Homo sapiens: one gene and its partners. The protein of the gene in region 1 purifies or fractionates together with the protein of each later gene. This does not show direct contact. Each region holds a gene or a part of one and is shown in the gene's direction. Other genes may lie near its edges.

What was found.
Region 2: the proteins of GNL2 (region 1) and KIFC1 purify together in Homo sapiens (affinity purification with mass spectrometry, with the first as the bait; one large-scale study listed by BioGRID). This does not show direct contact.
Region 3: the proteins of GNL2 (region 1) and RP9 purify together in Homo sapiens (affinity purification with mass spectrometry; one large-scale study listed by BioGRID and IntAct). This does not show direct contact.
Region 4: the proteins of GNL2 (region 1) and MCM10 purify together in Homo sapiens (affinity purification with mass spectrometry; one large-scale study listed by BioGRID and IntAct). This does not show direct contact.
Region 5: the proteins of GNL2 (region 1) and NEMF purify together in Homo sapiens (affinity purification with mass spectrometry; one large-scale study listed by BioGRID and IntAct). This does not show direct contact.
Region 6: the proteins of GNL2 (region 1) and SPATS2 purify together in Homo sapiens (affinity purification with mass spectrometry; one large-scale study listed by BioGRID and IntAct). This does not show direct contact.
Region 7: the proteins of GNL2 (region 1) and WDR46 purify together in Homo sapiens (affinity purification with mass spectrometry; 3 studies listed by BioGRID and IntAct, with this or other methods). This does not show direct contact.

What each region holds. Positions count from the first base shown.
Region 1 is NC_000001.11:37,582,002-37,586,124, reverse strand, and holds part of GNL2 (nucleolar GTP-binding protein 2), read left to right. Parts: intron 1-2,191; coding exon 2,192-2,258; intron 2,259-3,188; coding exon 3,189-3,347; intron 3,348-3,788; coding exon 3,789-3,902; intron 3,903-4,123. UniProt on the Homo sapiens protein: GTPase that associates with pre-60S ribosomal subunits in the nucleolus and is required for their nuclear export and maturation.
Region 2 is NC_000006.12:33,401,675-33,405,797, forward strand, and holds part of KIFC1 (kinesin-like protein KIFC1), read left to right. Parts: intron 1-1,639; coding exon 1,640-1,693; intron 1,694-1,810; coding exon 1,811-1,861; intron 1,862-2,054; coding exon 2,055-2,455; intron 2,456-3,177; coding exon 3,178-3,957; intron 3,958-4,123. UniProt on the Homo sapiens protein: Minus end-directed microtubule-dependent motor required for bipolar spindle formation. May contribute to movement of early endocytic vesicles. Regulates cilium formation and structure.
Region 3 is NC_000007.14:33,094,081-33,097,257, reverse strand, and holds the end of RP9 (retinitis pigmentosa 9 protein), read left to right. Parts: intron 1-703; coding exon 704-765; intron 766-1,825; coding exon 1,826-2,024; 3' UTR 2,025-2,461; downstream 2,462-3,177. UniProt on the Homo sapiens protein: Is thought to be a target protein for the PIM1 kinase. May play some roles in B-cell proliferation in association with PIM1.
Region 4 is NC_000010.11:13,195,704-13,199,826, forward strand, and holds part of MCM10 (protein MCM10 homolog), read left to right. Parts: intron 1-1,919; coding exon 1,920-2,064; intron 2,065-2,985; coding exon 2,986-3,104; intron 3,105-4,123. UniProt on the Homo sapiens protein: Acts as a replication initiation factor that brings together the MCM2-7 helicase and the DNA polymerase alpha/primase complex in order to initiate DNA replication. Additionally, plays a role in preventing DNA damage during replication.
Region 5 is NC_000014.9:49,828,422-49,832,544, reverse strand, and holds part of NEMF (ribosome quality control complex subunit NEMF), read left to right. Parts: intron 1-267; coding exon 268-338; intron 339-418; coding exon 419-494; intron 495-1,183; coding exon 1,184-1,246; intron 1,247-3,118; coding exon 3,119-3,196; intron 3,197-3,282; coding exon 3,283-3,491; intron 3,492-3,737; coding exon 3,738-3,929; intron 3,930-4,123. UniProt on the Homo sapiens protein: Key component of the ribosome quality control complex (RQC), a ribosome-associated complex that mediates the extraction of incompletely synthesized nascent chains from stalled ribosomes as well as their ubiquitin-mediated proteasomal degradation.
Region 6 is NC_000012.12:49,365,844-49,370,568, forward strand, and holds the start of SPATS2 (spermatogenesis-associated serine-rich protein 2), read left to right. Parts: upstream 1-1,618; 5' UTR 1,619-1,744; intron 1,745-4,725.
Region 7 is NC_000006.12:33,279,093-33,283,215, reverse strand, and holds the end of WDR46 (WD repeat-containing protein 46), read left to right. Parts: intron 1-2,228; coding exon 2,229-2,542; intron 2,543-2,693; coding exon 2,694-2,788; intron 2,789-3,356; coding exon 3,357-3,452; intron 3,453-3,605; coding exon 3,606-3,719; intron 3,720-3,841; coding exon 3,842-3,940; 3' UTR 3,941-4,108; downstream 4,109-4,123. UniProt on the Homo sapiens protein: Scaffold component of the nucleolar structure. Required for localization of DDX21 and NCL to the granular compartment of the nucleolus. Part of the small subunit (SSU) processome, first precursor of the small eukaryotic ribosomal subunit.

The sequences.
Region 1 (4,123 bases):
ATTTTGTTTGTTATGGCCAGTCTCATTGTTGGACATTTATACTGTGTATAGTTTTTCCTTATGGTGAACAACACAAGGATGAAGCATCAATGTGACCGCATCTTTTTCATCCTTAATTATTCCCCAAAGATAAGTTCTTACGGAGCAAAGCATGATATCAAAAGGTATGCATGCTTTTTGATAGGCAGCTGCCACATTGCTCTTGAGAAAGGGTTTAATTTCATTTCCCTTGGGCAGTGCTAGAAAGCTCTCATTCTCGTCCATCTCATGTCTCTTAAATGAAGTGGAGGTTTTGCTGTCTTAGTGAAGAGGCATTGTCCTTTGACTGCATCAGTGTTATTACCTCATTGCTATTGTCAGCCCATCTTCAAGCATTGGGCCACCTAGAGATAAAATGTCAAGCCATTTGAGGCCAAGCAAAAAGAGGCAGTGAGTTCATTTATTTGTTCTTAGAATTATTTGAACTTTCGTTGGCTTTGTATTCTGCCGATTTGAATTTTTCCTTCCGCAACAGGTATAGTAGGTAATGCAGTAAAGACAAAACTATTTTTGTTTACCTTGGGTAAATGTCCTAGAGACTAGTAAATAAACAGATTCTAAACCTTATCAGAAAAATACTGCTGTATATGGGAGCTATGGAGTATAGGTTGTGATTCAGGTCCTGCCAATTCCATTTTGTAATTCTCTGTGACATACTGCCTAATTCAGTCATGCTTTTTTTTAGTTTAATGTTTTATTGTGGTAAAATATATGTAACAAAAAATGTGGCCAGACGCAGTGGCTCACACCTGTAATGCTAGCACTTTGGGAGGCTGAGGCGGGCGGATCACCTGAGGTCAGTAGTTTGAGACCAGCCTGACCAACATGGTGAAACCCAGTCCCTACTAAAAATACACAAATTAGCTGGACGCAGGGGCGCACACCTGTAGTACCAGCTACTTGGGAGGCTGAGGCTGGGGAATCGCTTAAACCCGGGAGGCGGAGGTTGCAGTGAGCCAAGATCGCACCACTCATTCCAGCCTGGGCGACAGAGCGAGACTCCGTCTCAAAAAAAAAAAAAAAAAAGTACTCTTCTAACCATTTGATGTGATCTCGGCTCACTGCAATCTCTGCCTCCCGGGTTCAAGCGATTCTCCAGCCTCAGCCTCCCGAGTGGCTGGGATTACAGGTGCCCGCCACCACGTCTGGCTAATTTTTTTGTATTTTTAGTAGAGACAGGGTTTCACCATGTTGGTCAGGCTGGTCTCGAACTCCTGGCCTTATGATCCACTGCCTCAGCCTCCCAAAGTGCTGGGATTACAAGTGTGAGCCACTGTGCCCAGCTCTTCTAACCATTTTCAAGTGTACAGTTTAGTGATACTAAGTTCATTTACATTGTTGTGCAATCATTGCAGCTATCCATCTCCAGAACTTTTTCATCATCCCAAACTGAAACCCTGTACCCATTTAACACTAACGGTCCGTTTCCCCTCTCCCCCAGCCCCTGGTAACAACATTCTACTTTCTCTCTCATGAATTTGACTGGTTTAGGTGCCTAATATAAGTGGAATCATACAGTATTTGTCCTTTTGTGTCTGGCTTATTTCACTTAGCATAATGTCTTCAAGGTTCATTCGTGTTGTAGCAGGTGTCAGAATTTTCTTCTTCTTTTTTTTTTTTTTTTAATTAATTATTTTTTGAGACAGGGTCTTGCTCTGTCACCCAGGCTGGAGCAGTAGCCTGCTCATGGCTCACTGCAGCCTCAACCTCCTGGGCTCAAGGAGTTCTCCCACCCCAGTCTCCCCAGTAGCTGGGATTACAGGCATGCACCACTATGCCCAGCTAATTTTTGTATTTTTTGTGGAGATGGGGTTTTGCCATGTTGCCCAGGCTGGTCTCGAACTCCTGGGCTCAAGCAGTCTGCCCTCCTTGGCCTCCCAAAGTGCTGGAATTACAGGTGTGAGCCACTGAGCCAGCTGGAATTTCCTTCTTTTTTAAAGTTGAATGCTATCTTGTGTATATATGTGCCACATTGTGTTTATCCATTTATTTGTTGACAGACATTTGGGCACACTTTTTAAATTCAGTTTGTTTCTGGTCCATCTCCAACTGGGTTTGATACTGTTTTTTTTGGTACATTGACTTTACCCTAAAGCATCCTTTTAGTCTTGATGGTGCTTCAGTTGCTCATTTGGGGTGCTTTCTTATTTAGAAATGAAGCTCAAGAAGAGATCTATAAAAAGGGACAGTCCAAAAGAATATGGGGTGAGCTCTACAAGGTAAGACTCCTAAATTCTCTCCCATTGAGTGGTTCCTTGGGCTTTCATGATTTTGTAGAAGAAAACTAATTTTGATATATTGAAGCTCTGTTGCGCAGAGTACAGGCACCACTGCCTGTTCCATCCTCTTCCTCCTACAAAGAAACTCGGAAGGCGTACTACCATTGATCTAGGTAACTGCATTTTTTAAAGTACTTGTATAAGAGTAACAGCTATCTTTTATTATACAATCACATATTTATTACCTGTCAGTATTTTTTAAGATTTCCTGCCAAATTTATCATGCCTAGTTAAAGTCACATGCAACATTTTAAGTTATTTAGTCCACCCCTCTCCTTTTATCGATGAGGACTCCTGTCTAGAAAGGTTTAATGCTGTACCTAGCTCGACTAGCTTGTTAGTGAAGGAGGCTTTGTATATCTTGATTTCTGATCCAGTGATCTTTAACCGGCAGAGGTTTATGTCCATGCACTAATAATAACCTTCAGAAGAAAAATTTTCAAGTATAATCACGTAATTAAATAGTAACATGATAGGAAACTAGTACCGTGAAGGCAAGCTAAACTTTGTAGTTTTTTGTGAAATACACAAAACCTATAATATTACAAACTTAAAGATAATATTACAAACTTAAAGAAGTCTAAGAAGTAAATGATTTAGTTCAATAATCCATAGTAGTTAGGAAATAAGTTGAGTTTCATCTAAGCTAGTTTTTCTGTTTTAAATTCAGCAGGTTTCAAAAGCCACAGGATGAAAAACCTTTTGAATTCTGATCACTGGGCCTTGAGATTAGCCACAACGAACTCTGCCCAGAGACTGTTTTGAAGTTGTCTCTAAATATTATTATTTTATTTTTCCCAGACTCCCTTAAATGTCATCCCTCTTTTATTTGTACTGTAGCAAACCATTTTTGCCTTTCTGAATTTTCAGGTGATAGATTCATCAGATGTTGTAGTTCAAGTTCTTGATGCTAGAGATCCAATGGGTACTCGTTCCCCTCACATTGAAACTTACCTGAAGAAGGAAAAACCTTGGAAACACCTCATTTTTGTACTTAACAAATGTGACCTTGTTCCAACCTGGGCAACAGTAAGTACAACTACTAAACCAGAATAGACTATTAAGACATCTGTTAGTAAGTCAGTTGTAGGGCTTTTAGGCTAAAGTGTTGTCCGGCTGAGATTGTAGTAATGGGAGTGCTCTCATTGGAAACACGAAAGTGTGCTCATTGATAGTGGGCAGAGGCACCAGGAGACGGCTTCTGAGGCCACTGCCTGCTTCACATTATGCTCCATTAATTGCATTTAGTAACAATGAAGACATTTTTTGGAATATTGTTTTGTATTTATAAGACAGAAGAACAAAGCATTAACTGTTATACTTGGAAAAAACATTTCAAAGAATTATAGCTAACATTTTCCTTAGACAACAGTATATTTGAAACAGTTCTGTAATTCAAGCTCTGATTCTTCCACATAATGTAAATAAATGTACTGCAGTTTACCAAAATGTTTTCATCTCTCCTTCTAGAAACGGTGGGTTGCTGTCCTCTCCCAGGATTATCCAACACTTGCTTTCCATGCAAGCCTTACTAACCCGTTTGGCAAGGGAGCATTCATTCAGCTTCTGCGGCAGTTTGGAAAGGTATTGAGCCCTGATCTGTTTCTCCTGGAGTTGTGTAGCTGTGAGTTGGTATAAGAATCTGTCTTGCCATGGCATAGCAGAAAGTTGCCAACTTCTTAGCCGGACGTGGTTGCGCAGGTCTGTAGTCCTAGCTACTCAGGACGCTGAGGCAGGAGGATTGCTGGAGCCCAGGAGATCAAGGCTACAGTGAGCTATGATGGCACCACTGCACTCCAGCCTGG
Region 2 (4,123 bases), on another chromosome or scaffold:
TGTGATAACAATGCTTTCTTCTGGATTGCCTTTTTTTTTTTTTTTGAGACGGAGTCTCGCACTGTCGCCCAGGCTAGAGTGCAGTGGCATGATCTCGGCTCACTGCAAGCTCCGTCTCCTGGGTTCACACCATTCTCCTGCCTCAGCCTCCGGAGTAGCTGGGACTACAGGTGCCCGCCACCACGCCTGGTTAATTTTGTTTTTGTATTTTTAGGAGAGACGGGGTTTCACCGTGTTAGCCAGGATGGTCTCAATCTCCTGACCCCTTGATCTGCCCACCTCGGCCTCCCAAAGTGCTGGGATTACAGGCGTGAGCCACAGTGCCTGGCCTGGAATGCCTTTTGAATGACATGCCTGAGGCTGTTTTATAGTTAACTGTTTTTGCAAATAGAAGGAGTATACCCTAAAATAACAATAAAAAGTACAGTACGGTAAATATATAAACTAGTAACATAGTCATTATCATTATTAGGTATTATGTACTATATGTAATTATATGTGTTATACTTTTATACAACTGGCAGTGCATTAGGTTCGTTTATATCAGAATCACCACAAACAGGTGAGGAATGCTATGACATTACCATGGCTATAATGTCACTAGGCAATAGGAATTTTTAGCTCCATTATAATGTTACGGGGCTACTGTTGTATATGCAGTCTGTCATTGACCGAAATGTCATTATGGGCACATGACTGTATTAACATAGCATTTACATTGTGTTAGATATTATAAGTAATCTAAAGATGATTTAAAGTATATGCGGCTGGATGTGGTGGCTCACGCCTGTAATCCCAGCACTTTGGGAGGCTGAGGCAGGCAGATCACCTGAGGTCAGGAGTTTGAGACCAGCCTGGCCAACATGCTGAAAACCTGTCTCTACTAAAAATACAAAAAAAAAAAAATTAGCCAGGCGTGGTGGCGCTTGCCTGTAATCCCAGCTACTCAGGAGGCTGAGGCAGAAGAATTGCTTGAACCCTGGAGGTGGAGGTTGTAGTGAGCTGAGATCGCGCCATTGCATTCCAGCCTGGGTGAGAAGAGTGCAACTCCATCTCAAAAAAAAAACAAAATGGAGGCCAAGGCAGGCAGATCACCAGAGGTCAGGAGTTTGAGGCCAGCCTAATCAACATGGTGAAACCCCGTCTTTACTAAAAATACAAAATTAGTTGGGCGTGGTGGCGCATACCTATAATCCCAGCTACTCGGGAGGCTGAGGCGGGAGAATCGCTTGAACCCTGGAGGTAGAGTTTGCTGTGAGCTGAGATCATGCCATTGCACTTCAGCCTGGACAACAAGTGAAACTCTGTCTCAGTCAATCAATAAATAAAGTATATGGGAGCGTGTGCATAGACTATATTTAATACTATATACCTATTTATGTAAGGGACTTGGGCATCCTTGGATTTTGGTATTCTTGGGGGGTGCTGGAATCAACCCCTTTTGGATACTGAGGGATGACTGTAATTTCTGGTTCTAGGGGAGGTATCATTAGGAGCTGGCCAGACTTAGGGATAAGGGAAGGAAGTTATCCTATTTCTAATTCTGAGAAAAGCACTTCTTCTGCCCCTGTCCTAGCAAGTGTACATGCCATCTTAAGAATGATCATTCTACCTTTGCTCTCTCCCATCTCCTGGGCAGCTCAAAAAGTTTCCAAGAAGACAGGACCCCGGTGTTCCACAGCTATTGCCACAGGTAACTGTGCTCAAGAGCTGGGTCTGAGAAGGGATTTGGGGTATGTGTAAAGGGAGAATGATGGAGGTGGAGGGACACTGGTCCTGTAATTCCTAAGTCACCTCCTCAATTCTGTAGGGTTGAAGAACCAGAAGCCAGTTCCTGCTGTTCCTGTCCAGAAGTCTGGCAGTAAGTGACAAACATAACCACTGGGTGAGAGGCTGGGATAGGGAAGAGAAGATGGTGAGTGACCAGAAAAATCCATTTGGTCTCTAAGGGGAAGGAGATGTAGCATCAGGTGTGGATCCCATAAAGGCTAGAAGGGAGGAGGGATAGAGAGCCTAGACTTCACTGACCTTTGTCCTTTCTGTGTTCATCTTAGCATCAGGTGTTCCTCCCATGGCAGGAGGGAAGAAACCCAGCAAACGTCCAGCCTGGGACTTAAAGGGTCAGTTATGTGACCTAAATGCAGAACTAAAACGGTGCCGTGAGAGGACTCAAACGTTGGACCAAGAGAACCAGCAGCTTCAGGACCAGCTCAGAGATGCCCAGCAGCAGGTCAAGGCCCTGGGGACAGAGCGCACAACACTGGAGGGGCATTTAGCCAAGGTACAGGCCCAGGCTGAGCAGGGCCAACAGGAGCTGAAGAACTTGCGTGCTTGTGTCCTGGAGCTGGAAGAGCGGCTGAGCACGCAGGAGGGCTTGGTGCAAGAGCTTCAGAAAAAACAGGTGGAATTGCAGGAAGAACGGAGGGGACTGATGTCCCAACTAGAGGAGAAGGAGGTAAGGGCCAGATTTTCACCAGATGTCAGCCCCGCTTTCCTGGCAGAGGTCATGCCTCCCCTCCCTTCCAGGTACCCCTCAAGTCTGGGCTGAGAACTCCTGAGCACCTATCTTTAGCAGTATAGGTGCTGCTGAAGATACCTCTCTCTTGACCTGTCTGCACCCCAGCCCACTCCTGACTGTCTTGCTTTCTGCCACGCTTCTTCCTACCCTTGACTGTTTGCAAAGCTCTCATTTAGATCTGTGTCTTTCTTAGTCCTCCATCCCTCTTTCTTTGGGTTCCCATCCTGATCACAAATTCCTGTGGTACTCTCTTTCCCTCCTCCCATGTCCACTTGACTCCTTCCTGGTGAGCACCAACTAGATTAAGTTATTTGCAGTCTCTTAAATGACTCAACTTTCACTTCTGGGCATTCTGCATATGTGCTTCCCTCTTTCTGGAATGTTCTTTGTATACTACATCCTTCCTTGGTTCACTCCTGTACTTCTGGGTGTCACCCTAGATATCATCTTCCTTGTGCTCCTCTTTGTGCTTGGACATACCCATAGCACTCCCTGTCTTAGTACCATGATTCCTTATTTTCTCATCTTTCTTTGTTTACCAGACTTTGAGGTCCTTTTGAGCAGGGACCTCACTTCCACCCACTCCATACGCCCCACAGTTTGTTCTTCTTCTTGGTTGCATCTTACCCTCTGTGTATGTTGTGTTCTCTTCTGGGCAGAGGAGGCTGCAGACATCAGAAGCAGCCCTGTCAAGCAGCCAAGCAGAGGTGGCATCTCTGCGGCAGGAGACTGTGGCCCAGGCAGCCTTACTGACTGAGCGGGAAGAACGTCTTCATGGGCTAGAAATGGAGCGCCGGCGACTGCACAACCAGCTGCAGGAACTCAAGGGCAACATCCGTGTATTCTGCCGGGTCCGCCCTGTCCTGCCGGGGGAGCCCACTCCACCCCCTGGCCTCCTCCTGTTTCCCTCTGGCCCTGGTGGGCCCTCTGATCCTCCAACCCGCCTTAGCCTCTCCCGGTCTGACGAGCGGCGTGGGACCCTGAGTGGGGCACCAGCTCCCCCAACTCGCCATGATTTTTCCTTTGACCGGGTATTCCCACCAGGAAGTGGACAGGATGAAGTGTTTGAAGAGATTGCCATGCTTGTCCAGTCAGCCCTGGATGGCTATCCAGTATGCATCTTTGCCTATGGCCAGACAGGCAGTGGCAAGACCTTCACAATGGAGGGTGGGCCTGGGGGAGACCCCCAGTTGGAGGGGCTGATCCCTCGGGCCCTGCGGCACCTCTTCTCTGTGGCTCAGGAGCTGAGTGGTCAGGGCTGGACCTACAGCTTTGTAGCAAGCTACGTAGAGATCTACAATGAGACTGTCCGGGACCTGCTGGCCACTGGAACCCGGAAGGGTCAAGGGGGCGAGTGTGAGATTCGCCGTGCAGGGCCAGGGAGTGAGGAGCTCACTGTCACCAATGCTCGATATGTCCCTGTCTCCTGTGAGAAAGAAGTGAGGACCCATGGGCACTGGAACTGGGAAATGGGGAGGAGTGGGCAGGGTGCCACGAGATGGAGGTAGAGGGAGAAAGGAGCAAGAGAGAATTGAAGGATGAAGTGCAAGTTATCAGGCTGGGTTACCACATCCGGTTTTGGCCTGTGGGCTGTCGGTAGATCTG
Region 3 (3,177 bases), on another chromosome or scaffold:
AAGAGTGTCAATTTACATTTATCAGAGATAGTGAAAATCAGTGAAGCAGAAAGTCACCAGTGAACTTGAATGGTCACATAAAATACATTCCCAGAAGCCCTTTGACCAAAGTGTGTGCTGTTAACTACATGCTTATTAAATTACATTTGTATGACAAATTAGCTCTTTTACAAAAAAAAGGAATTCTTATTAAAGTGATCTTTGTTTGTAACTTGGAACAGTGATTTTTTTTCTGAAACAGACATTGTTATCTATTCAACCGCACTTTTTAAAATTTACTGTGTAAAAAAGTCATGTTTCATGACTGAAATCAGGGATTTAATTTCCCGGTCTTTAAAGAGTACATGTCTTTAAACTGTAAGATTAAAGTGTCCGTATATTTTTTCTTTAGATGACAGTTATTCCCTGTATTTTTCTTTGTTTTTGAGGTGGCAGTGTTATAGCTCTGTGATTGCTCCTGCAGAGCAGGGCTACCCCAAAGACAGTGTGCTGAGAGTAGCCATTTCCTGTATTTTTCTAATTGGAAAATCCATTTTTTAGCCTTAATGAGTTTTCAGTGATGTGACCTAGAACATGTTGAACATGCAGCTACATCAAACAGTAAAAAAAAAAATAAACTGGTTTTCATAACATAGGCATTTCATTGTATTTAACTTGTGATCCATGAAGCCTAACCAAACCTTAACCTTCTCTGACCCTTAAGGCACATGAAGATCCCATGTATGACATCATACGAGACAATAAACGACATGAAAAGGACGTAAGGTGAGGTCGTCCTGATGATAACAATATCCCCTTAAAGTTTTAAAATTATATAAAGTTGGAGAAAACCACTCTAGTGTTAGAGGAATGGTGCAGTAAACATGGTACTTCAATTGTGAAAATATGTGGAGTGCAGGAGTCATGGCTGAAAAGGCCAGTGTTGGGGAATGAGCAGGCCAGCCTCCTCCTCCTTGGGTTAACTTAAAGCCATGGGCTTGGTCCAGCTCTCTGGCCACTGCAGTTGATGTTGGCAACCCATGTTGTGCTGTCTACTTGTACAGTATAATTGATATTTTCATGTGATTCAGTTTATCTTCTCCAGAGTCTTTAGGGATGTGAGCTTTTGTTAAAAATTATACTTAGGCCAGGCTCAGTGGCTCACACCTGTAATCCTAACACTTTGGGAGGCCGAGGCCAGCGGATCGCTGAAGTCCAGGCGTTTGAGACCAGCCTGGGCCATACAGCAAAACCCCATCTTTACAAAAAAATATAAAAAGTAGCCAAGTATGGCAGCACGCACCTGTAGTTCCAGCCACTCGGGAGGATGAGGTGGGAGGATCTACTTGACCCCAGTAGGTTGAGGCTGCAGTAAGCCATGATTGCACCACTGCACTCCAGCCTAGGTGACAGAGGAAGACCCTGTCTCTAAAAAAAAAAGAAAAAAATTAGACATGATTAGAGAGAGGTGGAAAAAATTGGAGGGTTTGTTTTTTCAAATTGGTGGCATTATAACTGTTAAAGATGTAGATTAAGAAATTGAGCAGTAGGGGAATGGTTTAGTAAAGTATGCGTCTGTTAGAAATTACAATTGTAAGGACTGTGGAAACATGCAGAAATGTCTAGGACAATAAAAAGAATACAAAGTGGCTTGTACACTGGTTTCAGTCACGTAAAGTAGGCATTCAGGTGGAGAAGAATGAGAAAACAGGTAAAAATAAAAATACTGTCTTTGTGACATGGTTATTCATCATCCTATACTGCTTTTGAATGACATATTTATCTAAGCAACTGTTGTAAGTTAAAGCTAAAACTCACTGTTCTTTGATCAATTTTGAATGTTTAGGATACAGCAGTTAAAACAGTTACTGGAGGATTCTACCTCAGATGAAGATAGGAGCAGCTCCAGTTCCTCTGAAGGTAAAGAGAAACACAAGAAAAAGAAGAAGAAAGAAAAGCATAAGAAAAGGAAGAAAGAAAAGAAAAAGAAGAAAAAACGGAAGCACAAATCTTCCAAGTCAAATGAGGGTTCTGACTCAGAGTGACAAGGATGTGACTTGTTCAACATTCTCTTCTCAAACACTGACCAAGGAACAGAGGAAGATGCAGTCAGAGAAAGCAGCAGGATAGAGACGCCGAGAGAGGAGTATATGTGGGTCACAGCAGTGAGCTCCCACCCGCCTTGCAGTGAAGATGTGACCCCAGGAGAGGGAGTGTCTCCTTCCAGGTGCTAGCTCTGGACAGCAGCTGATTTTAGGCAGGAAAGTTTCTTCATCGTTGTCCTCCCTGCTGGTCACATGAGTTTACGATTCCTTTGAAGTGTCTCCCACAGGGTGGCAGGACTGGGAGAATCTCTGAGGCGTGTCTTCCAGGCCCTCCCACAGCTTGTGCCCTCCACAGTGTGGACTCAGGTCCCATAGACATCAGGCTGGAGTCTTCTCTGTTGTTGAGAATAATAAAAGCTCATTATTTATTTTTTAAATGGAATGTATTTATTTATGAATAATACATAAGTACAAATAATACCTAATACAAATTTAAAAGGTACATAATATTTAATCATGAAAACTCTACTTTCTTCCTTTCCACTCCAGTTACCTTCCCCAATGTCTACCAGTGGTACTAGTTTCTTGTGAATATTTTATATATCACAAGTAAGTACAGGGCTTTTCTTAGCAAATGCTATCCACATTCACTCACACATAGTTACATTTTAAACTTAGAAGTATGAACCTTACAGTGGTCAGTATCTGAGGGGGTTGGATCCAGGACCAACTCCCTCAATCCCTCACAGATACCAAAATCCGTGGATGCCCAAGTCCCTTATATTAAATGGCGTGCTATTTGCCTGTTCCCTACACACATCTTCCCATATACTTTAATTCATCTGTAGATCACTTCTAACACCTAATACAATGTAAATAGTTGTTATAATGTATTGTTTAGGGAATAAGGGCAAGAAAGAGAGTCTGCACATGTTCCATAGAGACAGAACCATCCATTTATTTTTTTGAATATTTTCTATCTGTAGTTTGATGAATTCACGAATGTAGAACCTGCTGATAGGGTGGGCCCACTGTTTTTATATATCAAGTACATTTGGCTTTACTGCCATATCAGCAGTGTGCATTTATATTTACCCGACATGGTTTGTTGATTTGGGGGCTAGGGAGTTCTTAAAACAATGAAAAACCTTGT
Region 4 (4,123 bases), on another chromosome or scaffold:
AGATTCAAGCGATTGTCCTGCTTCAGCCTCCCGAGTACCTGGGACTACAGGCGCCTACCACCACGCCCGGCTAATTTTTAGTAGAGACATGGTTTCACCATGTTGGCCAGGCTGGTCTCGAACTCCTGACCTCAAATGATCTGTCCACCTCGGCCTCCCAAAGTACTAGGATTATAGGTGTGAGCCACCATGCCTGGCGGTTTTATTTTTTATTTGTTGAGACAGACTATCCCCCTGTCACCCATGCTAGAGTGCAGTGGTGCAATTATGGTTCACTGCAGCCTCAACCTCCCAGGATCGATTCATCCACCTGCCTCAGCCTCCCAAGTAGTAGCTGGGACTGCAGGCACATGCCACCACGCCTTGGCTAATTTTTGTATTTTTTGTAGAGATGGGGGCCTCCCTTTGCTGCCCAAGCTGGTCTTGCACTCCTGGACTCAAGCAGTCCCACCTCAGCCTCCCAAAGTGCTGGGACTACAGGCATGAGCCACTGTGCCTAACCAAGAATCCTTTAAAAGAAATCTTACACAAAAGTCCAGTCCCATGACAGGTGAAAGCTGAGTTGCTGCGGCTGAAGTAGGGGTAGGGCACCCAGAGCCCCACCTGCCCACTTCCTGAGTGCCCCAATCGAGCCTCTCTCTTCCCTTAAGTTAGCAGCTGCAGCCAAATGAAGGGCAAAGCTTGCTGTATGCCAAAACCTTACCTATAATAATAACAACAGGAATACCTACAATAACCATGGCACATGTCCATATTACTCAGTACTTGTGATATGTGTGTGCCATGTATTTACTATGTTTATTTATTTATTTATATATATATTTTTTGAGATGGAGTCTCGCTCTGTCACCCAGGCTGGAATACAGTAGTCCGATCTCGCCTCACTGCATCCTCTGCCTCCTGGGTTCAATCAATTCTCTTGCCTCAGCCTCCCGAATTGCTGGGATTACAGGTGCCCACCACCATGCCTGACTAATTTTTGTATTTTTAGAAGAGACAGGGTTTCACCATGTTGGCCAGGCTGGTTTCGAACTCCTGACCTCAAGTGATCCACCTGCCTCAGCCTCCCAAAGTGCTGGGATTACAGGCATGAGCCACTGCGCCCGGCCAGGAATGTATTTGCTATGTAAAGATTCATACTTTGCAGATATTATCTTATTTCATCCATACAACCATGACCTTCAAAGGTAGGTCAATGCTATATCATCATTTCCTTCTCTTTTTTTGTGTGTTTGTTTTGAGACAGGGTCTCACTCTGTCTCCCAGGCTGGTGTACAGTGGTGCAATCACAGCTCACTGAAACCTCCATCTCCCTGGGCTCAGGTGATCCTCCCATCTCAGTCCCCTGAGTAGCTGGGACTACAGGCATGCACTACCATGCCCAGCTAATTTTGTACCATGCCCAGATGAAGTCTCACTGTGTTGCTCAGGCTGGTTTTAAACTCCCGAGCTCAAGAAATCCACCTGCTTCAGCCTCCCAAAGTGCTGGGTTTACAATGAGCTACCATGCCAAGCCCCATTTCCATTTTATACTTGAAAAATTAAGTAATTTTCCTTGGGTTACAAGCTAGTCCGTGGCAGAGCTGGCTGGAACTTTATCTTAATTCTCTCTGATTCTAAAACTTCCAAAATGGTGATGTGGCTCCTTTATGGATCTGGAAGCCTGCAGTCTTGCTGATGTCAAACTTGTTATATTTAAATAAACTAAGATTTTATTCATCAACATATAGACCTGTCTCCCATGCTATTATATTCTAGTAATTGTGTTAATAATACTAAGTAAAATTAAGATATGTTCTGCCAATTTCTGTCAGAGAACAGCCAGAATTCACTGGTTACTAATAAAAAAGGGATCCAGGTCTATAAGTGCCTCTGTCATCTTTTAGATCTTTACCTCCCTCTCATTCCCTTTTTTCTAGTTAGCTGCTATCACCAAATTAAGGGCAAAAGGCCAGGTTCTTACAAAAACAAACCCAAACAGCATTAAGAAGAAACAAAAGGACCCTCAGGACATCCTGGAGGTGAAGGAACGTGTAGAAAAAAACACCATGTTTTCTTCTCAAGGTACTGCAGTTTCACAGTTAACAGTGGGAAAGAGAAACTGTTTCTAAGGGAAATATGTTCTAAACCCAAACCAGCACCCAGATATCAAGCAATTACTTCCATTTCCTCCTATATAGAATACCTAAATAGAATTTCTATGGGTGGAACTGATTTTTTTTTTTTTTTTCATGGAGTCTTGCTCTGTTGCCAGGCTAGAGTGCAGTGGCGCAGTCTTGGCTCGCTACAGCCTCTGCCTCCTGGGTTCAAGCGATCCTCCTGCCTCAGCCTCACGAGTAAGTGGGACTACAAGCGCGCGCCACCACGCCCAGCTAATTTTTTGTATTTTTAGTATAGATGGGGTTTCACCATGTTGGCCAGGATGGCCTCGATCTCTTGACCTCATGATCCGCCCGCCTTGACCTCCCAAAGTGCTGGGATTACAGACGTGAGCTGGAACTGATTTTTTTATAATTACATTAAATTGGAATGAAATTGGGCACAATTTGAATACTTGGGAATAGGATTGCTCATTGGATCTTTGTACATATATATATTAGCATAAAGATTTACTTTGACAGAACTAGAATTCCTTTGTTTTAAATTGCCATATCTTTATTTTTAAAACTCTGAAGTTGGCAATATCATTTTAACATAATTGTCAACATTATTTACACTGTTGTTATCTGTTACTATCGTCAGCTGCCTATTTGAAGGTGAAAAAGAGATTCTATTTAGTGGTAAAATCTGCCACCACCCCACATTCTAGGCTCAGCTTCTTGGCTCACCTCTGAGAGCTTTTCCCTGCTGGGACCAGCGGGGGTAGGTCAAGTTTGAAGGGCTGGTAGGCAGAGGAGGAGGGAGTGGGAGGGAGTAGAGTTGATGAGGCGCACTGGCTTTCTGAAATTTCTTGGTCGCTGCTAATGTTTGTTCCTTGTGCCCTAGCTGAGGATGAATTGGAGCCTGCCAGGAAAAAAAGGAGAGAACAACTTGCCTATCTGGAATCTGAGGAATTTCAGAAAATCCTAAAAGCAAAATCAAAACACACAGGCATCCTGAAAGAGGTAAGAGCCCAAAAGCTCAAGGATGGTGTTGATGTCCGATGTCCTTCAAAGCCAAGGTGCTAGCTGTAGGACCAAGAATGTGTTGTTTGTTTTATTTTGTTTTTCTGAGACAGAGTCTCAGTCTGTGGCCCAGGCTGAAGTGCAGTGGCGCCATCTCGGCTCAATGCAAGCTCCGCCTCCCAGGTTCAAGCGATTCTCCTGCCTCAGCCTCCCAAGTAGCTGGGATTACAGGTGCCTGCCACCACACGAAGCAAATTTTTGTGTTTTTAGTAGGGACAGAGTTTCACCGTGTTGGCCAGGCTGATCTCTAACTCCTGACCTCAAGTGATCCTCCAGCCTTGGCCTCCCAAAGTGCTGGGATTACAGGCGTGAGCCACCATGCCCGTACCCAGCCAAGAATCTGTTTTTTACATAAATCTAAAAGTAGGTATATGTCAGTTTGTTTGAGTTTGCTTTGAAGAACAGGAGAATTTCTAATAAATTTTAGCTTTGTCCTTGTCTCTTTACTGAAGAATATCATTTGATTTAACATGACTTAAATAGATATCAATATTATAAAAATGTTTGCATTTGGTTATGGCTGTGAAATTATGTTTAAATGGCTCTACACTGCTGCTATTTTCTGCCTTGCAATATGCAAAAAGAGTTTTCCCATTCCAGTATTTTTATATTGGCATTTCAAATGCTCTAAATCAGTAGTTAACCCCATCACACCCAAGGACCCTTTTTAATAACAAGTATTTTGTATTGCTTCCTTATCTTGAAATAAAATTCATAGATAATATGAATTACCTATACTAGTCATTTCGAAAAAAATCAATAAATATCCTAATGCAAATAAGAAAAAATGAAAAGATTTGTGATAAAGATACAGATTTCATTATGGATTCATAAATGCAGAGGCAGAACTAGCTTAGGGGAAATAATCAAGTCATCAGAGGCTTGGACTTATCAGTGTAAATGAGCCAGAAATGGAGGCTCACATAGGTTTGTGTCTTGGTAAATAGCATGGACCTATT
Region 5 (4,123 bases), on another chromosome or scaffold:
CCTGGCCATCATGGCAAAACCCCTGTCTCTACTAAAAATACAAAAATTAGCCAGGTATGGTGGCACACACCTGTAATCCCAGCTACTTGGGAGGCTGAGGCATGAGAATTGCTTGAACCCGGGAGGCAGAGGTTGCAGTGAGCCGAGAATATACCACTGCACTCCAGCCTGGGTGATGGAGCGAGCGCGACTGTATCAAAAAAAAAAAAAAGAAGTAAATCTTTGTTAATTATGAATAGGAATGATTTTAATGTTGCATTTTTGTAGGGATATATCATTCAGAAAAGAGAAATAAAACCAAGCTTGGAAGCAGATAAACCAGTTGAAGACATACTGACGTAAGCATATAGGCATGGGTCAATTTGCTTTGGATGTTTGTTAATGTTCTCGAATGTGATATAATAAATATGTTTTACAGGTATGAGGAATTTCATCCTTTCTTGTTTTCTCAACATTCACAATGTCCATATATAGAATTTGAATCATTTGACAAGGTGGGTTTTCCGTTCTGTTCCTTTACCAGTTAGTTAGCATGATATGAGCTGTTGATATCAACTTGCTTCTATTGAGAAACTGAAACTATACTTGCTTTACATTCACTGTGAATCTGGGCATTAAAGATCAGTGTCGTCACAGATACAGCTGTTGGAAATAATTGTTGCCACTTTATTTCAGGATGAAGGACCAGAGGTTTGAACTTCATTTGATTCTTGATACTGTTTAGCCATATAATACATTTACCGGAAATCTGTTCAAGTTCTTTGAGTGGTGTTATGAAACACAATGGAATCTAAAATTCTGTGTATGCAGCTGGGCTTGCTGGCTCATGCCTATAATCTCAGCATTTTGGGAGGCCAAGGCAGGCAGATCAGTTGAGGTCAGGAGTTCAAGACCAGTCTGGCCAACACAGTGAAACCCTGTCTCTGAAAAACTACAAAAATTAGCGGTGTGTGGTGGGGTGCACCTGTAGTCCCAGCTGTTTGAGAGGCTGAGGCAGGAGAATCACTTGAACCTCGGAGGTGGAAGTTGCAGTGAGCCTAGATCGCGCCACTGCAGTCCCGCCTGGGCAACAGAGTGAGACTCTGTCTCAAAAAAAAAGAAAAAAAAAATAAAATTCTGTGTATGCAAGTTGAAGTAGAGACTGTGCTTTTTTTTCCAACTAGTTGTTTGTTTTTTTAATAAGGCGGTGGATGAATTTTATTCCAAGATAGAAGGCCAGAAAATTGACTTAAAAGCTTTACAACAGGTATGTATTATTAAAAACACATATTAAACCAGCTAGTCTTTAGCGGCTTGATGGGTAGATGATATAGGAAAGGGTAGCCTTTCAGAAAGAGTGTAAGAAGTAGTATGGGAACTCTCTGACCTGCCTCTTTATTTATGATAAAGGTTTATGAAGAAGGTCCATGGGGGATTTTATTGTTGAAAAGTATGTCCTCATTTGTTTCATGAGTATTTCAGATATTCTGTAAAAAAAGGAAAATACGGTGGGAACGTGAGGCCTGTTATTTACACCTTAATGTGGTTTGCTCAGAACAACCCAAAGCTTCTCAAACATTGCTGTTAAGGAGATACTGTTTTAGGGAGATTTTAAATAGGCCAGAGGAGGGGATATTGTTTATCATTAAACTGTTTCTTTTTTAAATGGACTTTAAAGCCAAGTCTTAATATGTTTTCTGTGTATCATGACTCCAAAAGAAGTGATATACAGTATTTTCCCAGCACATTTGACCATGTTTTTAGAGCATTTGCTGCAGAACAGTTTCATAAATTGTTAATAGTCACTCTTGATTTGAAGGGGATTTGATTTTTTCAAAAACAGTCTTAAAATATGTGTGCAAAAATTTCAAATTATTTGAGGCTGGGCGCGGTGGCGCACGCCTGTAAATCCCAGCACTTTGGGAGGCCGAGGCGGGCAGATCACTTGAGGTCAGGAGTTCAAGAACAGCCTGGCCAGCATGGTGAAAACCTGTCTCTGCTGGAAATACAAAAATTAATGGGGTGTGGTATGGGTGTCCAGCTACTCAGGAGCCTGAGGCACAAAAATTGTTTGACCCTGGGAGGCGGAGGTTGCAATGAGCTGAGACTGTGCCACTGCACTCCAGCCTGGGTGACAGAGTGAGACTCTGCCTTAAAGAAAAAAAAATCAAATTGTTTGAATCCCTGTACCACTTCCTCTTCAGTTTTTAAAAATTAGTTAATCATAGCACAATTTCAAAGCAGGTAGGCCAGTCAGATGAATTATATACATCATGTAATTACCACATGGTGGCAGCACTTTGGCTAGTAAACTGAACCCCATGGTTTCATGGGTGTCAAAATACTAGTGATTTATTTTGGTAATTATTTTGTGGGTTTTAATAGTCATCATTCTTATCTAAATTTTAAAAAATATTTCATCTAGCATTTAAATACTCATTAATTGATGATATTACTAGTGTTAGAAATTTTGTCCCCCAATTGATAACCTTGAAATGTAAAGTATATATGATAAAATGCCAAATAACTACCATGAGCCTTTGTCTTATTAATTTAGGGGAAAAAGTTTCTGTAAAATACTGGAAATAGTTGTGAGAAAATCAAAAGTAGCAAAAAATACAAAGTCATTTGGTAATTTATGCTCTTTGGGAATTCATTCCCTGCCAGGTGCAGTGGCTCAGGCCTGTAATCCCAGCACTCTGGGAGGCCAAGGTGGGAGGATTGAGCTCAGACATTGGAGAGCAGCCTGGGCAACATAGCGGGACCCGGTCTCTATTATTTAAAAAAAAATAAAGAATTCGTTCTCCCAAACTTTACTTTTGTGCCATAGGAAAAAATGTCTTGATTTCTGCCTGTTTGAATAATGCCAAGGGTATTAGGGGTATATCTTATATACACAGTAACCTGTAATCAAAATACCTTTCTATATAAGGAGTGGGAGTTAGGAAGACAGGAGAAGTAATTTTGGGGCATGGAACGCATTGTAGTGGGATAGGCCTAGGGTGGTAGACTATGGGAACTTCAGCTAGCTAGATAACAGCATAGATGGGGTCAGGATAGTGAGTGTTGGGAAGTAAGAGAGGGATGTCATGAGGTAGGAGAAATCTAATTTTTAAAAAATCTGTTTTGCCAATAAAAGGAAAAGCAAGCATTGAAGAAATTAGATAATGTTCGAAAGGATCACGAAAACAGATTGGAAGCTCTTCAGCAGGCTCAGGTATTATGTTTGGCTTTCTCAGTGCTTTTTCAAAAATGTTAACTTTAACTGGCAATGTAGTAAATGTGTGTGGTTTGTTTTTTAAGGAAATAGACAAACTGAAAGGAGAGCTCATAGAAATGAACCTACAAATAGTTGACAGAGCCATTCAGGTAGTTCGAAGTGCTTTAGCTAACCAGATAGATTGGACAGAAATTGGGTTAATTGTGAAAGAAGCCCAGGCTCAAGGAGACCCTGTTGCAAGTGCAATCAAAGAATTAAAACTACAAACAAACCATGTTACAATGCTGCTAAGGTAAGTTTGACTCTTAGTCAAGCAGTTAATGCTTGTCTTTATTTTGTTATTTTAATTGTTCACTGTATTAAACATTTTTTCTTCATATTTTGAAATTCTCAAAGAAAGGGAAAAAACTAATTTAGATTAAAATAAATAATGAAACTTCCAGTACTGTAAACCATTTATAATTTTATTGAAGAAGAAAATTGAAAATAAAAGTGATGTCATTGACGTTAGTGAAATGCTATTGAATATTTTTAATAGAAATCCATACTTGTTATCAGAGGAGGAAGATGATGATGTTGATGGTGACGTCAATGTTGAGAAAAATGAAACTGAACCACCAAAAGGAAAAAAGAAAAAACAAAAGAATAAACAGCTGCAGAAGCCTCAGAAAAATAAGCCCTTACTTGTAGATGTTGATCTCAGCTTGTCAGCATATGCCAATGCCAAAAAGTAAGTCATTTAACTTTACATTTTAGGCCAAGTGTTATCTGCAATAAATTAAGGAATTAAGGACATTTTAAAAAATTTTAAATTTCACTTGTACATGCATACTTTTTTTGGGTGAAAATACTTTTTTAAATTTAGTTTTGTTAATTATACAGTTTGTTCTGATTTGTTCTGTATAATTTGAGAATTTGTCAAGT
Region 6 (4,725 bases), on another chromosome or scaffold:
TACATGTACTGTGATTGCAATAACATACGTGGAAACCAAAATGACATGTGCCTGTGGTGTCTAGCTATACACTGACACACACTCTCCAGCTTGTTGGTGCCTTTTCAGAGCCCCTTTGCTTGGCCTCAAAAGGTAAGATGAGGACAAATTCTAATATATATATATATTTTTTGAGATGGAGGGTGGAGTGCAGTGGTGCAATCCCGGCTCACTGCAACCTCCGACTCCTGGGTTCAGGTTATTCTCCTGCCTCAGCCTCCCGAGTAGCTGAGATTACAGGCGTGTGCCACCACATCCGGCTAATTTTTGTATTTTTTGTAGAGACGGGGTTTCACTATGTTAGCCAGGCTGGTCTCGAACTCCTGACCTCAAGTCATCCGCCCGCCTCGGCCTCTCAGAAGTGCTGGGATTACAGACGTGAGCCACCGCGCCCGGCCCCAGATTCTAATAAATATTTTCAATGCTGACTGTCTAAATCCCTCTGGCCCCTCTTAATAGACCCCTGACCAGTCGACACTGAGGTAAGTGCTTTATGCATGCAGAAAGGGTGCACAAATACTAGTTAGTTCCAGCACCAGGGAGGTTGGGAGTCTGGCGTCGAAGAGAGTATTTAACAGAAAAGATTCGAAGGGCGGCGGGACCGACCACCGCCGCGTAGAGGGGCTATGCTGACAGCTGGGTAGATCAGAAACCCGACTGACGATCCCGAGGTCATTCTTCCCGCGCCCCCACCGGCCTCTGCGCTCTCTCAGGAGGCAGAGCGACCGCGCGGTCCGGAGGCCCCAGCGTTTCCCGTCGTTGGCGACTCTGAAATTGCCTTTTGGAACAAAACTTGGGTCGGGAAGGAGGCGAAGGGGAAAGCGGTGTGAAGTCCTCGGTACGGAAGAGTGAGCGGCGCTGTACCCGGCGGCCAGAGAAAAAGCTTCCCAACCCGGACATTGAGCAAAAGCCCCGCGCTCGACTCCCCTAGCGGCGCCCGCGTTCGGCCACCTCCGGGGGAGTTTCGGCTCTTTCCGTCAGTTCAGCTCGGGCCCTCCGTTCCCGGCGCGCGCCGGGTCCCTAACCGATGCCGCCGGGTACGAGCTGTGCTGCACGCGGACGCGAGCTCGCGTCCCACCCGTTTTCCCCTTCCATCTACTTTGTCCCCAACCCTCTCCCCGAGTCTCTTCCTTTCCCCGGTAATTCCCAGTCTCCGGTGGCGCGCGAGCCTGCGGACGGTGCGAGACGCGAGGGACCGGGCCCCGAGAAGAGCGGTAACCCGACTGGTCGGAGCCCGCCTCTCGCCGCCCCGCGCCTCTCCCCGATCTTCTCGGTCTCCGGTGCGCGGGCCGTCTCGCCGCTCGAGCCGCGCTCGCGCACCCGTTGGCTGCCACAGCCTCGAGCTTGGCGCGCCGGATTCGCGCCGGCGCGAGTACGCGCCCTGAGCTCTGGCTGGCTGGCTGGCGCGCACGCGCCCGAGAGGGCTCCGGGGCGGGGCGAGCCGCTGCCTGGGCGAGGGTCGGGGTGATCTGCTGGATCTCCGGCAGCATCCTGCAGTCCGGCCCAGGAGAGAAGTGGGGAGGCGGCGGTGGGGGCGGGGCGGCGTCCGGCTCTGAGAGAGCTGGGGGAGGAGCGCGGCGGCGACGGCGGCGGTGGCTCTAGAAGGGGAGGTGGAGGATCTCCTTTCCTCTTCTCAGACCCGGGAGCGTCCGGGACGCGGAGCCCGGAGCTGGGGCGACGAGGCGATTGCGGGGGCCTGGGCTAGGTGAGGCTAAGGGTGCTGGGTGGCGGGGTTGGCGGGGGCTCAGAGGGCGCCGAGGTGCGGGGAGCGGGTTGAGGGAGGAAAAAGAGGGAGGGGGTAGTTGGGGGCGGGGGGACGGGAAGGAGGGGGATGTGAGCCCTTAGAGGCCCGAAGTGCCCAGAGGGTGGAAGGTTCCTGGGGTCTGTGGGGCGGGTGAAACACCCGCGTCGGAGTTGGGGAGTTTCCAGACGGATAGGCCGGGGAAACAATGGAGTGTGGGGGGGACTCTGGCGTGAGCGTGTGTGGGGTATTGGATTTTAAGAAACAACGAGCGAGATAGAACGAAAGAATAGGATCATTTGGGATGAGAAGTACAATGAATTAGGAATGCAGTAGGGATGCGTAAGGTCACCTCCGTGGCTGTGCGAGGTCCTTAGCATTCGGGGGCAATAATGAGATTTGAAAATAAGGGAGAGAAGGGCGTTCTTGGAATTGAAGGGGGAGACGAAATGGAAAATCAGGCGAACAGACGCAGAGACATAAAATAGATGTGGTTAGGACTTGGATTAAAGCAGAAAGGTAGATTCAGTCAGTTTTGGACTACAGTGATATTTTTCTCATAATTCATCCAGAATGATTAGGTTCTTTTAGAAAGTGGATCTTTCTCAAGCTTGTCCCTCTGTTAAGGAGTACAAGCCGTTCTTTAAATAATTTGATTATCGCTTGTCCATTTTATTGATAAAACATGCCTGTGATATTTACTTCCCCTCTGTTTAGCAGGCTACTGTTCCTAATTTACCTACGGTTAATGAAGCAGGAGAGGACAGATCACCAAAAATATCTTGCTTTAAGTTAGGTCAGTGATAATGCAGATTTCAGTGTTTTGGAGAGAACCAAAAGCTTGGTTGTTTGTTTTCAGTTTGACCAAAAGGTGATGGATAAAATTAAGTTACCTGTACTTTGTTAGAATTGCAATTTCTCACTGAGAAATGTTCTTGTGCCATCTGCTACTGGTTTTGTGTTTGTGGGAGAGAGTTGGGGTTCTGCCTTAAATTATTTCTTGATGTTAACTTCAAATAGGCTGCCTCATACCTTCCAGTTTCAATTAAGGTGATTTGGGAATATTGATTATGATGTTTGCATTTCCTTAATATTTGGATTTCCAGACCAAATTTGTGATTGTACTAGATAGAAAATTGCCGATTTTGAAATTGTAATGACCATTGTGTGCTCCTAAGTAGTCCATGTTAAGCCTTTTATTTGTTGGGCATTAAGTTTTGCTGACTCATCTAAGATTTATGGACATTAATCAGTTTGTATTTCTCAGCTAGGTCTTGGATGGTAGCATTTAGGTTACTTTACAAAGGTCCAAAAATAATGATTTAAATTGTTACTTTTCTTAGATGTTATGAAAATTGAACAAAGCAAGAAATGAGTGCAGTGTTCTCATTAGTGACAATGTGCCTCTTTTTTTTTTTTTTTTTTTTTTTGAGATGGAGTCTTGCTCTGTTGCCCAGGCTAGAGTGCAGTGGCGTGATCTCGGCTCACTGCAACCTCCATCTCCCGGGTTCAAGCGACCCCAGCCTCCCAAGTAGCTGGAATTACAGGTGCCCGCCAGCACGCCTGGCTAATTTTTGTATTTTTAGTAGAGACGGGGGTTTCACCATCTTGGCCAGGCTGGTCTCGAACTCTTGACCTCTTGATCCATCTGACTTGGCCTCCCAAAGTGTTGGGATTACAGGCGTGAGCCACCGCAGCCTAATGTGCCTCTTTTTTAATTGACCTCTTTCAGTGGGCTAGCCAAGGTGCTAAGATTTTTTTGTATGTATTATCTCATTCAATCCTCACAATTATTTCATATTTTGTAAATTAAGAGGTTAAATAATTTACTAAGGTCACAGAGCTAGTAAATAACAAAGCTTTATTCAGACCTAGCTGTATCGGATGCCTTTTTTAAAATCTTCACTACCTGTTTGCTCTTTCTGCTTCACCCTCATCTTGGTTATAGTAAAGCAGCATGAACTGGTTGAAACTTGGGTCTGATAACTGTGATTTAGATGAAGATTAAGTTAGTAGGCTGTAGCCTACTCTGTGGAGTTCATTGAAGGTTTACTGCTCCTGTGATTTAACAAAGGTCTGGGATCCTGATAAATAGGGCTAAAAACATCTTTTTGCTTAGGATTTGTCCTGCGACCACACTTAGTTTTCTGTTTAGTCTTATACTGCTGAGGTACTGTGCATACGTGGCACTCTTACTTGTAGAAGTCAAGACAGCCAGTTGTGGAGCCAAACCAATTAACTCTGGAAAACAATTGAAAACTGCTCAGTACTCAGGTGCCCTTGAGCCCACAATTGGTACTAGCATTACCTCTAAATATAGATAGGATCCTTTTAGAAACCAGGAGTGAAACAACTAGAACTGAGGGAAACAGCTGGGGCCTGAGGGAGGAGCCACAGGTTATGGCCAAAACATGAGCATAGCCCCTGGAGGCCGATCAGGCTAAGACAGGAGGGAATTTTCGTTTGTTGAGCATTTATGTATTCCAGGCGCTGAACTCAGTGTACATTATTACCTTATCTGTTAGTTGTAAGTATTATCCTTATTTTTCAGATGAGGCTCAGAAGGGCTAAAAGTAACTTACACAAAGTCACTTTATAATGGCAGTGAAGAAAATTTGTGTATACTATTCTAAAAATTGCTGCTTTCAGTTTCCCATTGTAGGGTCACCATATTAAAACTGGGAACTAAAAGTCACTCTTTCAGATATACCTGGCTTCTCATGTGTGTAACTGATTATTTCAGTCTTGCTGCTTTCATTGGAAACTGGAAGGAAAAGCTTGTATTTTTTGGATGTAATTGTTAGGAAGTACAGTCCATTCATTATATTACCAAATGACCTGTAGAATATAATTCAGCTTCCTCAGTTGCTTAGTGTATATCTGCAGCAACATGAAAATAGCATGTCCATCCCTTCTTTTCTGGGATCTTCACTTTCAACGAAGTC
Region 7 (4,123 bases), on another chromosome or scaffold:
TTTTTTTGAGACGGAGTCTCACTCTGTCACCCAGGCTGGAGTGCAATGGTGTGGTCTCGGCTCACTGCAACCTCCACCTCCTGGGTTCAAGCGATTCTCCTGCCTCAGCCTCCTGAGAAGCTGGGACTACAGGTGTGTGCCACCACACCCGGCTAATTTTTGTATTTGTAGTACAGATGGAATTTCACCATGTTGGCCAGGCTGGTCTTGAACTCCTGACCTTGTGATCCACCCGCCTGTCCTCCCAAAGTGCTGGGATTATAGGCGTGAGCCACCGTGTCTGGCCTTTGTAATTGTATCTTTGTGAATGAGTGATTTGGTTCTGCCCTTTTTACTCCATATTTATACCAGCCTGGCTCTAGGAGAGTCAGAAGGCCTGCCCAAGGGTTTCTGCCCTCTCTGGGCCACTGGGCCAAAGCTGTAGCTTGCCCTCCGTGGGCTACCTGGGTCAGCCACTCCTGTGCTTAGGGCTTAATCACTAGTTCGCTGAGGCCTGAAGTTTAATCAACACCTTGAGGCTAAACAGCTCTGGTCCTTGTGATCTTCAGCCCATCCCTGCTTTTCTCTGGTCCTCCTCAGGAGCTTGTCAGGCCACGGGGGCTCCAGTGATGAGGCTGACCATCTTTCTTAAGAGGTGTTCTGGTAGCTTGTATTATGATTGGATTGCGTTGACTTCTCAAAGCCGAACTGCTGCTTACTAGTAGTACAGTAGACTCCCATTTGGCACTGGGCTGGTCTTTACCCAGGGGTCCCATAGATGGGTGTGTGGAGGGGAGAAGAGCCAGCATGCATCCTTGAGTTGTTAGTTCACCAAAGGATGTGACCCTGTGTTCCACGAGCGCTCGGTAATTCCTGGTTTGCACTGATGGCCTTTCTCTTTGGTAAAGTCAGGGCGCTGATTATCTTGTCGGAAGTATCCAGCTGGTCCTCTCTTGGGCTCCATCACTGTGCAAGTCTCTGCTCATAAGAACTCTTCAGTTCCCTTCTCCTGGGTTCACAGCCAAGGCAAAAAAGAGACTCCTTGGCCTCTTGGCAAACATACATCCCCTACCTGGCTGGTCCCCCTTCAGCTTCCCTCTCTAAGGAACAACTTGAACATAGAAACTCCAACCTCACCTGTAATCCCAGCACTCTGGGAGGCCAAGGTGGGCAGGTCATTTGAGGCCAGGAGTTCAAGACCAGCGTGGTCAACATGGCGAAACCCTGGCTCTACTAAAAATTAGCGGTGGTGGCGCATGCCTGTAATCCCAGCTACTTGGGAGGCTGAGGCACGAGAATCACTTGAACCAGGGAGGCAGAGGCTGCAGTGAGCCAGGGTCATGCCACTGCACTCCAGCTTGGGCAACAGAGAGACCCTGTCTCAAAAAAAGAAAAGGAACTCCAACTTCTGAAAGTAAACAACTTATGCAGTACATGATTCCTGGAGAGGATTTGGTCACCAACCTTCCCTCCTTCCTTCCAGGGAAAGCACACAGAGGGGCAGGGCAAGGGCCTCCAGTGCATTACTTCACCACTTCCCTGAGTAGGTCTTCTCAAGTCCTTGGAGCCTTCACTTTGTGATTTGTCACTGCCAGAGAGCAATGTTGGGATCATGAGCTGTGGGTCCTCAGTCTGACTTTAAAGAAACCTCACAAATTGTCTGCTCCTGATTTTCCTGACCATGTTTCCCACCAATCCTAACAAACCTCTGCTTCCCTCTCAGTCTCAACACTCTGGTGTTAATGCATTTGAACCTGCTGTGTATCTACTTCCTGTAATTTTTTGAGAATTATCTAGAATGGCTCAAATCCCACCTTTCCCATGAAGCCTTTCTGACCACTGCACATGCTCCTTCCCCTTGCTGGGCTGTGTGCTGCATGTGTGTACAGGGGGACATCACATTTGGGTGCAGCCTGTCGTGTGGGCGTTCCTTTTGACGCCCGTGTCTTGAGAGGGCTGTGTGGTGTTAGCAGGTTAGAGGCAGATGCTAAAGAGACAGGCCTGACCATTCACTGACCTAGCTTTCCTTTCCCTGAGCTTCAGTTTCCTCACCTCTTAAAGGGAAATAAAAATAGTATGAGTTGTGTGCAGCTTAACTGAGAGGATGCCTGTGGAGTGTTCAGGGTGATGGCAGTGGTTATTACTATTAATCTTTTTCTCCCCAGCCAGACTTGATGCCTGGACTTGGCCACAGCTTGCTTGGTAAACCCATTTACTGACATATTAATTGATCCCTCTTCTCTCACCAGGTACATGGCCACCTCTGGCCTAGACCACCAGCTGAAGATCTTTGACTTGCGAGGGACGTACCAGCCTCTGAGCACTCGGACCCTGCCCCATGGAGCAGGGCACCTGGCCTTCTCCCAGAGGGGACTGCTGGTGGCGGGAATGGGTGACGTTGTCAACATCTGGGCAGGGCAGGGCAAGGCCAGCCCACCCTCCCTTGAACAGCCCTACCTCACCCACCGGCTCTCAGGCCCTGTGCATGGCCTTCAGTTCTGCCCCTTTGAAGATGTGCTGGGGGTGGGGCACACTGGGGGCATCACCAGCATGCTGGTCCCTGGTGAGTGGGCCAGGGGATGGGGCTTGAAGTGAATGAACTCTGGGTGGAAGTTTGGGCCAGAGACATCCAGGAACTGGGGGCTTAGTTGGGCTGGAGCTGTTGGACTGAGGTTCTTCCTTATGGCTCCATGCTTCTCCCTCCCTCCCTTCAGGGGCCGGTGAGCCCAACTTCGATGGCCTGGAGAGTAATCCATACAGAAGCCGGAAGCAGCGCCAGGAGTGGGAGGTGAAGGCCCTGCTAGAGAAGGTGAGGCTCCCCTGCTGGAGAGGGTGAGATCCCCCCCATTGCTGGAGAGGGTCAGGTTCCCCCGTCCTGGAGAGGGTGAGGTTCCTCCTTCCTGGAGAAGGTCAGGTTCCCCCCTGCTGGAGAAGGTCAGGTTCCCCACTGCTGGAGAAGGTCAGGTTCCCCCCTGCTGGAGAAGGTAAGGTTTCCTCTTCCTGGAGAGGGTGAGATTCCCCTCTCCTGGACGGGGTCAGGTTTCCCTCTGCTGGAGAGGGTGAGATTCCCCCTGCTGGAGAGGGTCAGGTTTCCCTCTGCTGGAGAGGGTGAAATTCCCTCTCCTGGAGAGGGTCAGGTTCCCCCCTGCTGGAGAGGGTGAGATTGCCCCTGTTGGAGGTGAGGTTCCCCTGCTGCAGAGAGTGAGGCCCCTGCTGCTGGGGAAGGTGTGGTTTGGGGTTGGAGGTAGAGAAAGCTCTCCTGATGTCTCATGCTGGGGGTCTTGGGTAGAGGGGTTCAGCAGCCTCCCTGGCTTCTCTTTTTGGTGCTACCCTCCTGTGGCTCCTTGCTGAGTCCTGTCCCTCTGTGACACCCCCAGGTACCTGCAGAGCTTATTTGTCTGGACCCACGAGCCCTGGCCGAGGTGGATGTCATCTCCCTGGAGCAGGGAAAGAAGGAGCAGATAGAGAGGCTGGTATGGAGCAGGCCCCTGAATGCCCAGGCCCGTCTTCTCCCCCACATCCTCTCCCCACCATGGCTTGTCCCCAGAAGTGCGGCCAGCAGGTGGGTGCTGCCAGTTCCCTGACTCCGAGGCTGTAACAGATATCACTCCTGTCCCCTCCCTCAGGGCTATGACCCGCAGGCTAAGGCTCCCTTCCAGCCAAAGCCAAAGCAGAAGGGCCGCAGCTCCACGGCAAGCCTGGTGAAGAGGAAGAGGAAGGTCATGGATGAGGAACACAGGGTAAATGAGCATTGGCATGGGCCGGGCCTTCCACAGGCTGCACCCTCCTGCTTGTGCCTCTGCCCTTGTCAGCCTGCCACTTCTCACTCTGTGCCTGTGTCCTCCCCGTCTCCGGTCCCCAGGACAAGGTCCGGCAGAGCCTTCAGCAGCAGCATCATAAGGAGGCGAAGGCCAAGCCCACGGGGGCCCGGCCATCTGCCCTGGACAGATTTGTGCGCTGAGCCAGACTCCAGGGTTGCCTGGGAACAGTCTCTCCCCAAGATCACCTGTAGGGAAATGAGTGTTCCCTGGAACAAGGAGGTGGGGGCAGTGTGGCCCCTTCCCCAACTGGGGGTGGACAGCTGTCTCCTGGGGTGGGTTGGTATTAAAGAGGAAAGCGATTTTTTGGATAATGTGTCTGGATC